Regions from separate parts of the Homo sapiens genome. Here region 2 is linked to region 1. The links come from fine-mapping of genetic effects on gene expression. A gene starts in region 1. The other region holds a variant in brackets. All regions are shown on one strand. Distances are from middle to middle.

Region 1 (5,376 bases):
TGGTGGTGCAGGAACCCCCTGTAACTGAGTAGGGATGGCAGGGAAGGGACACCTGGGTTCTGCCAAACTTAGAGGCACTCCCCTTCCCCTGCCAGAGTTCACAAGAAGGGAAATAATCTTAGGGGTGGAGGGAGGGGCATAGGAGTTTCCTCCCCCCATTACCTGAGCACCTCAGCAGGGCCGGGGTGCACAAGTCCCACCTGCCACCCCAGAATTCAGTCTGATATAGGAGGGCAACAAGCCAAGAAGACACACGTAATGCAGCCATAAAAAAAATGCAATCAGCTGGGCGTGGTGGCTCACGCCTGTAATCCTAGTACTTTGGGAGGCTGAGGCAGGAAGAACTTGAGCCCAGGAGTTCAAGACCAGCCTGAGCAACATGGCAAAACCCCGGCTCTAGAAAAAAATACAAAAATTAGCCGGGCGCAGTGGCTCACACCTGTAATCCCAGCATTCTGGGAAGCTGAGGCAGGTGGATCACCTGAGGTCAGAAGTTTGAGACCAGCCTGGCCAATATAGTGAAACCTGATCTCTACTAAAAACATAAAAATTAGCCGGACATGGTGGCGGGCGCCTGTAGTCCCAGCTACTCGGGAGGCTGAGGCAGGAGAATCACTTGAACCTGGGAGGCGGAGGTTGCAGTGAGCCGAGATTGTGCCACTGCACTCCAGCCTGGGTGATGCAGCAAGACTTCATCTCAAAAAACAAAACAAAAATTAGCCGGGCGTGTTGGCATGTGCCTACAGTCCCAGCTACTCGGGAGACTGAGGTGGAAGGATCGGATCACTTGAGCCCCAGAGGTTAAGGCTGCAGTGAGCTATAATTTCGCCACTGCACTCCAGACTGGGTGACAGAGAGAGACCCTGTCCCAAATTTAAAAAAAAAAAAAGATAATGAAATCATGTCCTTTGCAGTAACATGATTTTTTTTTTTTTTTGAGATGGAGTCTCGCACCCGTCGCACAGGCTGGAGTGCAGTGGCGCGATCTGGGCTCACTGCAACCTCCACAATCTCTTTCATATTCTTTTTTTTTTTTTTTGAGACGGAGTTTCGCTCTGTCACTCAGGCTGGAGTGTGGTGGCGCGATCTCAGGTCACTGCAATCTCCGCCTCCTGGCTTCAGGAGGCGTGCGTGTGTGTGTGTGTGTGTATATATATATATATATATATATACACACACACACACACACACACACACACACATTTTTTTTTTTGGACAGGAAGTAGAATTTATTGGTGAGTATTAATAGGGGGGGCAGCACATTGGAAGCCCTCATGAGTGCAGGGCCAGCCACTTGTCCAGAGGGCCACGATTGGGGATGTACTTGACCCCACAGCCATCTGGGATGAGCCGCTTCTCAGCCACCATGTCTTCAAATTCATCAGCATTGAACTTGGTGAAGCCCCACTTCTTTGAGATGTAGATCTTCTGGCGGCCAGGAAACTTGAACTTGGCCCTGCGCAAGGCCTCAATCGCATGCTCCTTGTTCTGCAGCTTGGTGCGGATGGACATGATAACTTGGCCAATGTCAACCCTGGCCACAGTGCCCTGGGGCTTTCCAAAGGCACCTCACATGCCTGTTTGGAGCCTACATTGTGGTAGTGCAAGGTTAGAAACATGAACATCCATCGGAAAGGCCTGTCTCCAAGGTCCCTTAGAGCAACCCATACAACCAACAGGCTGCGTACACTACCAAGGAAGCTGCTGTGTGCAGCCATTGCACACACACATTTTTATAGTTTCTTGGTGGACTTGCCAATTCAGAAAATATCTGTAGTATCAATGAAAGTGAAAAATTCAACAGGTCCTTTGGCCACGATATTCCAGTAATACAAATTTATCCTTGTGCATAGACATCAAGAAGCATCATTAAGTAAAAAAATAGAGTTCTCTGACTCTCTACCAAGCCATTCGCTCGGGGCCAGACCCACAGGCCTCGCCCCGCCTCAACCACGCCTTCATGGCGTAGTCTTCTCCCTGTCTCCGTCCCCCGCTCCCCACCTTCCGAGCGTCTCCATCGCTCCCCAGCCACGCCCTTGGCGCCTGGTCCTGCTGCAGCCTGGTTTCCGTCCAGACCACGACCTCTCGGCTAGGTCCTCGTCGTCAACCCCGCCCCCAAGGTCTCGCCCCGCCCCAGCCCCGCCTTCCAGCGGTTGTCCGAGCCTCTACCCGCCCTAGCCACGCCTCCAAGGCGTGGTTCTCGTCTGCAGCCCCACCTAGGCCTCGCCCCGCTCCAGCCGCGCCTTCCGGGCTTGATCCTCGCCCCACCCCAGCCACGCCTTCTGGACTTGGTCCTCGTCTCTAGCCCCGCCCCCTAGCCGCGCCCCAGCCCCGCCTTCTGGACTTGGTTCCGTTCTCTGGCTCCGCCCCTGAGCCTCGCCCAACTCCAGCGACGCCTTCCGGGCTTGGGCCTCGCCTCTAGCCCCGTCCCCGGGTCTCGCCCCTCCCCAGCCACGCCTTCCGGACTTGGTCCCCGTCTCTAGCCCCGCCTCCGATCCTCGCCCCACCCCAGCCACGCCTTCCGGACTTGGTCCTGGTCTCTAGCCCCGCCTCCGATCCTCACCCCACCCCGGCCACGCCTTCCGGACTTGGTCCTCGTCTCTAGCCCCGCCTCCGAGCTTCGCCTCACTCCAGCCCCGCCTTCTGGACTTGGTCTTAGTTCCCAGTCGCGGCCAAATCACGCCTCAGCCACCTCCCGCAAGCCTCTCACTGCCTCAGCCACGCTTTCCAGGCTGGTTTCTGGTCCCCATCCGCGGCTGGTCCGGCCCTGGGACCGAATCACTTCCCAGCGAGAGGAAGGTCAAATTTCTCGACCGGCTACGGGAAGGTCGCGGCCGCCGCCCTGTCAGCCGCCTCGGCGCCCCCAGGACCCCTCGGGTCTCTTTAACCGGAAGCGGAAGTGCGTGTCGGCGGGATCATGGCGACTTTGGTCGAACTGCCGGACTCGGTCCTGCTCGAGATCTTCTCTTACCTCCCGGTACGGGACCGGATCCGCATCTCCAGGTGCGGCCCCGCCTCCGGGGGGAAGGGCAGGGCGGAGGGCGCAGCTGGCACCTGGAGATGCGATGTGGCCCGGGGCTGGGGTCGTTCTAACCGCGCGTCCCCTCCCCCAGGGTCTGTCACCGCTGGAAGAGGCTGGTGGACGACCGGTGGCTGTGGCGACATGTCGACCTGACGCTCTACACGGTACGCGCAGCTGGCCGGGCGGGCCTGGGCCGCGGTCGCGGTGCCCGGACCCCGAAGACCACCTCTCCCACCCTGGGACTGTGTGTCGGGGCCCGGGCTGGGGATTTAGAGCCAGGCGATCCGGGGCCTATCTCGGCATCATCGCTTACCAGCTCCTCTTCGACCTCAGGGCCTCAATTTCCTCATCCCTGCAATGGGGATAAAGGACAGTACCTGCCTCACGGGGCTATTATGGGACTTCACTGAGATCACGCAGGGAAAGGGCTTAGAACAGTCTGGCACATATTTATCATTCGATAAATGCTAATTTATGACTATGTTATCAAGTTTTTGTTTTGTTTTTGAGACAGAGTCTCGCTCTGCTGCTCAGGCTGGAGTGCAGTGGTGCGATTGCAGCCTCGACCTCCCAAGCTCAAGCGATCCTCTCGCATCAGCCTCCTGAGTAGCTGGAACCACGGGCGCTCGCCACTACACCTGCTAATTTTTTATTTTTTGTAGAGACGGAGTCTCACTATGCTGCCCAGGCTGGTCTCGAACTCCTGGGCTCAAGTGATTCTCCCGACTTAGCCTCCCAAAGTGTTCAGATTACAGGCATGAGCCACAGCAACTGGCTCAAAACATTTATAGATATATTTGTTGCCCTTTTTGAAACTGTCTTCATAGATAATTGCTATTATAAAGTGAATTTGCACCCTTCCTTTTACGTTACTTCATATGTGTGTGTCCAAAAACAATTATAGTGTTAGTAATGTATTTCTGAACTTCGGGTAATGCTGTTCTACTATTTAGATAGTGTTCTACTTTTAAACAATTTTACTGTATATATCCATCTGTAACTCCCTTTAATACAGTTGCTTTTGAAGTTCTTTTTTTAAGGACAGAGTCTTGCTATGTTGCCCAGGATGGTCTCGAACTCCTGGACTGAAGCTGTCCCCCAACCTCAGTCTCCCAAAGTGCTGGGATTACAGGTGTGAGCCACAGTGTCTGGCCTGATAATATGAAACTTTTTCTCAGTTGTTGAAACTTAGTTGTTGGTTTTGCGAGGAAAAGTTGATTCGTCCATTGGTTTTGTGTGCATTTAAAATTTTACCAACTTTAACTGCTACCCTTGTGAGTTACCATTCGGTGGCCACTATTTCTAGTCAATTTCTGCTGACCCACACGGGTCTAAATTTGGCAAGGAAGATTTGATTCCTCTGTCAAAAGTAGCCCATAACATTTATGCTCTGCAGTTTATCTTTTTCTAATTTATTTTTTTGAGATGGATCTCACTCTGTCACCCAGGCAGTGGCAAAATCATAACATACTGCAACCTCCATCTCCTGGGCTCAAGCCATCTTCCTGCCTCAGCCGCCTGAGAAGATTCATTAAAACATGTTTCTTTCTCTCTTGGTTCATGATATGGTTTGGCTGTGTCCCCACCCAAATCTCAACTTGAATTCTATCTCCCAGAATTCCCACGTGTTGTGGGAGGGACCCGGGGAAAGTAATTGAATCATGGGGCCAGTCTTTCCCATGCTATTCTTGTGATAGTGAATAAGTCTCACAAGATCTGATGGGTTTATCAGGGGTTTCCTTTTTTGCTTCTTTCTCATTTTCTTTTGCCATCAACATGTTAAGAAGCGCCTTTCACCTCCCGCCATGATTTTGAGGCCTCCCCAGCCATGTGGAACTTAAGTTCAATTAAACCTCTTTTTCTTCCCAGTCTCAGGTATGTCTTTAGCAGCAGTGTGAAAACAGACTAATACTGTAAATTGGTAGCGGTAAGTGGGGCGTTGCTGAAAAGATACCCAAAAATGTAGAAGCATCTTTGGAACTGGGTAACAGTCAGAGGTTGGAACAGTATGGGGGGCTCAAAAGAAGACAGGAAAATGTGGGAAAGTTTGGAACTTCCTAGAGACTTGTTGAGTGACTTTGCCCAAAATGCTGATAGTGGTATGATCAATAAGGTCCAGGCTGAGGTGGTCTCAGATGGAGATGAGAAACTTGTTGGGAACTGGAGTAAAGGTGACTCTTGTTATGTTTTAGCAGAGAGACTGATGGCATTTTGCCCCTGCCCTAGAGATTTGTGGAACTTTGAACTTGAGAAAGATGTTTTAGGGTATCTAGTGGAAGAAATTTCTAAGTGGCAAAGCATTCAAGAGGTGACTTGGGTACTGTTAAAGGTATTCAGTTTTATAGGGGAAGCAG
Region 2 (5,376 bases), 720 kb after region 1:
TATTTATTTAGAGACAGAGTCTCGCTCTGTCGGCCAGGCTGGAGTGCAGTGGTGTGATCTCGGCTCACTGTAATCTCTGCCTCCCAGGTTCAAGCGATTCTCCCGCCTCAGCCTACTGAGTAGCTGGGACTACAGGTGCACGACACCACACCCGGCTAATTTTTGTACTTTTAGTAGAGGTGAGGTTTCATCATGCTGGCCAGGGTGGTCTCGATCTCCTGACCTTGTGATCCATTCGCCTCGGCCTCCCAAAGTTCTGGGATTACTGGGATTAGAGGCGTGAGCCACCGCTCCTGGCTAAGTGATTTTTTTTTAATGGATTAGTCTCAGAAGAAGAAAAGTTGTGGAAGGTAGATAGTTCAGGAGGATAGGTCAGGAAAATGTATTTTTGGTTTTTTGTTTAGTTTAGGTTTTTTGTTTTTTGTTTTGCTGAGACGGAGTCTTGCTCTGTCCACCAGGCTGGAGTGCAATGGCGCAATCTCGGCTAACTGCAACCTCCGCCTTCTGGGTTCAAGCGATTCTCCTACCTCAGGCTCCCAAGTAGCTGGGCAGTTTTGTTTTTTGTTTCTTTTTTTCCATAGACAGGGTCTTGCTTTGTCACCTAGGCTGGAATGCAATGACATGATCATAGCTCCCTGCAGCCCCAAACTCCAGGACTCCAGGGCTCAAACTCCAGGGACCCTCCTACCTCAGCCTCCTAGGAAGCTAGGACTCCAGGCATGCACCACCACGTCCAGTGTGGGGTGTGGTGTAGAGATGGACTCTGGCTATGTTGCCCAGGTTGGTCTCAAAACCTAGGTTCAAGTGATCCTCCTGCCATGGCCTCCCAAAGATCTGAGATTAGTGGTGAAGTCACTGTGCGCTGCCAGGAAAAGGATTTAAGCGAGGTTGTTGTTATATCTGGAGACAAGCTTCCACCTTATTGCGTATTTAGGGTCTTGTCAATTGCACCCCAGTGTAGACCTACAGTGGGTCAAGGGAGCTAAGTTTTCATACCCAATTTAGTAACTACTGGGACCAGTCACTGGTAAACTATATTCTCCCTAGACAACATTAGCATCTATTATACTCAGTTTTATCATCAAAAAATTAGCATGATTAGATTATCTTAGTGATTTGAGATTATTGTGAGATATTTGAACTTCATAAGTGAGGATACCTTAGGTTCCAGTTTAAAGAATAGGAGCCCTGGGCTGGGCACAGTGGCTCACACCTGTAATCCCAGCACTTTGGGAGGCCAAGGTGGGTGGATCACTTGAGGTCAGGAGTTCAAAACTGGCCTGGCCCACGTGGTGAAACCCCATCTCTACTAAAAATACAAAAGTTAGCCATGTGTGGTAGCTGGAGCCTGTAATCCCAGCTACTCGGGAGGCTGAGGCAGGAGAATTGCTTGAGCCCGCGAGGCGGAGGTTGCAGTGAGCCGAGATTGCACCACTGCACTCCAGCCTGGGAGACAGAGCAAGACTCAAAAAATAAATAAATAAATAAATAAATAAATAGCACCCCTAACTCTAATATGCTCAAACAGTAAAGACAGTTCTCTTTCATTACAAGGACCTCAGAATTAAGGAATGTGCACGAATAGGAGAGGGCTTCATTCAGTCCTTCACGAGGTTCCCTCCCCCCAGCACTGGTTTTCCTCTGACTGCAACAGGTAGTTGCAGTCAATGCAAGAGACATATCTAGACCTGATTCCCAGAGACAGAAAATGGAGAACCCTTCCCTGGGTCCATTGATAATAGATAACTTTCATGGAGTCAACCAGAAGACATTTCTGTCATGAGTTGGCTCATGGCCCTCAGAAGACTATATCCACATTTTAATCCTCTCGCTTGTGAATCTGAGCTTTTATTTATTTATTTATTTATTTATTTATTTATTTATTTATCTATCTATCTGAGCTGGAGTCTTGCCCTGTCGCCCAGGCTGGAGTGCAGTGGCGTGATCTCGGCTCACTGCAACCTCCGCTTCCCGGGTTCAAGAGATCCTCCTTCCTCTGCCTCCTGAGTAGCTGGGATTACAGGTGCCTGCCACCACAGCCTGCTAATTTTTATATTTTTAGTAGAGATGGGTTTTTGCCATGTTGGCCAGGCTGGTCTTGAACTTCTGGACTCAAGTGATACAATTGCCTCAGCCTCCCAAAATGCTGGGATTACAGACGTGAGCCACCGCACCTGGCCTTAAATCATATGACAAAAGGGTGAATGTGACTTATTTGGGAAAAGGGTCTTTGCAGAGAAGCAGCTTACCCTGGATTACCTGGGCAGGCTCTAAATGTAACCACATGTTTTCTTATAAGATAGGCAGAGGTGGAGGCCAGGCGCAGTGGTTCATCCTTGTAATTCCAACACGTTGGGAGGCTGAGGCAAGAGAATTGCTTGAGGCCAGGAGTTTGAACCCAGCTGGGCAACAAAATCAGACCCTGTTACAAAAAATTTTAAAAATTAGCTTGGCACAGTGGTGTGTACCTGTAGTCCCAATTACTTGAGAGGCTGAAATGGGAGGATCGCTTGAGCCCAGGAGTTGGAGACTGCAGTGAGCTATGATTGCACCATTGCACTCCAGCCTGGGCAACAGAGTGAGATTCAGTCTCAAACAAAAAAAAAAAAAAAAGAAAAAAAAAGACAGAAGTGGAGGAAACACAAAGAAAAGGAAGAAGTAATGTAACCATGGAGACAGGAATTTTATTGATGCTGTATTTGATTAGTGATTTTTTTATTAATTAGTATTTGATTGACAGTCTTGTACATTTTTGCCCTACAAATCTGTCCTTTTAATATGCATGTTGTTTATAGCCCTAGACAATTTATTAATCAAATTTTATTCTTTTTGACATTGTAAAAGTTGAAACTTCATGAACGAATTTTGTGCCCTGATTGTTGTTTCCTTTTTTATTTTTTTTTGAGAA[G/C]GGTCTTACTCTCACCCAGGCTGGGAGGCTGAGGCAGAAGAATCGTTTGAACCCGGGAGACGGAGGTTTGCAATGAGCTAAGATCATACCACTGCACTCCAGCCTGGGCAACACAGCAAGACTCCATCTAAAAAAAAAAAAGTTGTCATGCTTTTCATCATCTGGTGGCATTCTCAGAATGAAAGAGACAATTTGAATGCAAGAGAAAGTAATACCACATATTCTTATGCAGGAATGTAAAATTTTTAAAAATACACACATCCTTATGAATTAATTTTATTTTTAAGCTGAAATGTAGTATTAATCTTTCTGATATTGTTTGCTAAAGTGAGGACACCTTTAAAGGTATGTAGAGAAAGAGGTGTTGAATCCAGTACAGAAGGAAGATGAGGCCGGGCGCTGTGGCTCATGCCTGAAATCCCAGCACTTTGGGAGGCTGAGGCAGGCGGATCACCTGAGGTCAGGAGCTCAAGACCAGCCTGGCCAACATGGTGAAACCCTGTCTCTATTAAAAATACAAAAATTAGCCGGGCATGGTGGCACATACCTGTAGTCCCAGCTACTCCGGAGGCTGAGGCAGGAGAATCGCTTGAACCTGGGAAGCGGAGGTTGCAGTGAGCTGAGATCTTGCCACTGCACTCCAGCCTGGCGACAGAGCAAGACTTTGTCTCAAAATAAATAAATAAATAAATAAATAAAATAAACAAGGATGAGAGTTTCCTACTAGGCAATTTATGTGTGTGTGTGTTTTTTTTTTGTTGTTGTTTTTTTGTTTTGTTTTTTTTTAGCAGGATCTCACTCTGTTGCCCAGGCTAGAGTGCAGTGGTGTGATCATGGCTCACTGCAGCCTCAACCACCCCAGGCTCAGGTGACGCATCCTCTCACCTCAGCCTCTGGAGTAGCTGAGACTACAGGTTCACACCACCACATCTGGCTAATTTTTGTATTTTTTGTAGAGAGGGGGTTTCACTATGTTGCACAGGGTAGTCTCAAACTCCTGAGCTCGTGCAGTCCACTCGCCTCAGCTTCCAAAGTGCCAGGATTACAGGCATGAGCCACTGCACCGGCCTTTTCTCCCTGTGGATCTCACCTCTCAGAAACCCATTTCTAGAGTGTCATCATTCCACTAACATGCCAGCTACTTCGGACTTTAAGCTGTGAAATATACAAAAGAGAAATTCATAATGAATGATCCGGAAAACCTGATTAAGGTCTTCAAATACAAGAGAAGATCATCATGGTTAAGGGTGAGAATTTGGAATCAGACCAACTGGCTTTGAATCCCACCTGTGCTTTGTAAATAACCGTATAATTGTTGACACTTTATTTCACTGTTCCAAGCTCTATTTGCTCCCCTATAAAGTTAGCATTATCGGCCAGGCGCAGTGGCTCACACCTGCAATCCCAGCACTTTGGGAGGCCGAGGCGGGTGGATCACCTGAGGTCAGGAGTGCGAGACCAGCCTGGGCAACATGGTGAAATGCTGTCTGTACTAAAAATACAAAAAAGTAGCTGGGCGTGGTGGCACACACCTGTAATCCCAGCTACTCGGGAGGCTGAGGCAGGAGAATCACTTGAACCGGGGAGGTGGAGGTTGCAATGAGCCAAGATGGCGCCATTGCACTCCAGCCTGGGTGACACAGTGAAACTCCTTCTCAAAAAAAAATTTTTTTAAGTTAGCATTATCATATTTATTTACGTATTTAGGAAGACTTCTATATCAGTGTTTGTGTTGCTACAAGGAATACCTGAGTCTGGGTTATTTATTTATTTATTTATTTTGAGACAGAGTGTCGCTCTTGTCGCCCAGGCAGGAGTGCAGTGGTGCAGTCTCAGCTCACTGCAACCTCTGCCCCCTGGGTTCAAGTGATTCTCCTGCCTCAGCCTCTCCAGAAGCTGGGATTACAGGAGTGCGCCACCACGCCCAGCTAATTTTTGTATTTTTGGTAGAGACAGGGTTTCACCATGTTGGCCAGACTGCTTTTGAGCTCCTGACCTCAGGTGATCTGCCTGCCTCAGCCTCCCAAAGTGCTGGGATTATAGGCGTGAGCCACTGAGCCCAGCCTAGAGTCTGGGTAATTTATAAAGAAAAGAGGTTTATTTGTCTCACAGTTCTGCAGACTGTACAAGAAGGGTGGTGCCATCATCTACTTCTGGTGCAGACCTCAGGAAGCTTCCAATCACGGTGGAAGGGCAAGGGGAGCTGGCAAGTCAAATGGTGAGAGAGGAAGAGAGAGAGGGGAGGAGTGCCAGGGTCTTTGTGAAGTAGTAGAGCAAGAACTTCCTCATTACTATGGGGAGGGCACTAAATTCTTCATGATGAATCTGCCCCCATAATCAAACACCTCTGCCTAGGCCTCACCTCCGACACTGGGGATCACATTTCAACATAAGATCTGGAGGAGAGAAACATCCACATTATATCAACTTGAGACACTTCAACTTATTTATTTATTTATTTATTTATT

What was found.
Region 2: its variant is fine-mapped to the expression of FBXL12 in cerebellum (GTEx, PIP 0.93).

Annotation. Positions count from the first base shown.
Region 1 is chr19:9,816,355-9,821,730 of GRCh38, reverse strand. It overlaps FBXL12 (F-box and leucine rich repeat protein 12), which reads left to right and starts at 2,652. Exons shown (of 3, transcript NM_017703.3): 1 at 2,652-3,003; 2 at 3,114-3,186. The coding sequence starts at 2,918. It overlaps LOC124900430 (small nucleolar RNA SNORA70), which reads right to left and starts at 1,777; the gene lies at 1,637-1,777. It also overlaps the pseudogene RPL10P15. RefSeq lists silencers at 2,091-2,240, 2,461-2,550, 3,001-3,160.
Region 2 is chr19:9,096,349-9,101,724 of GRCh38, reverse strand. OR7G2 (olfactory receptor family 7 subfamily G member 2) reads left to right here. Exons shown (of 2, transcript NM_001005193.2): 2 at 1-1,318. Among named protein-coding and RNA genes, the nearest start is that of OR7G2, 8.4 kb to the left of the region's middle. The variant G/C (reference allele first, on the strand shown) is at 2,909.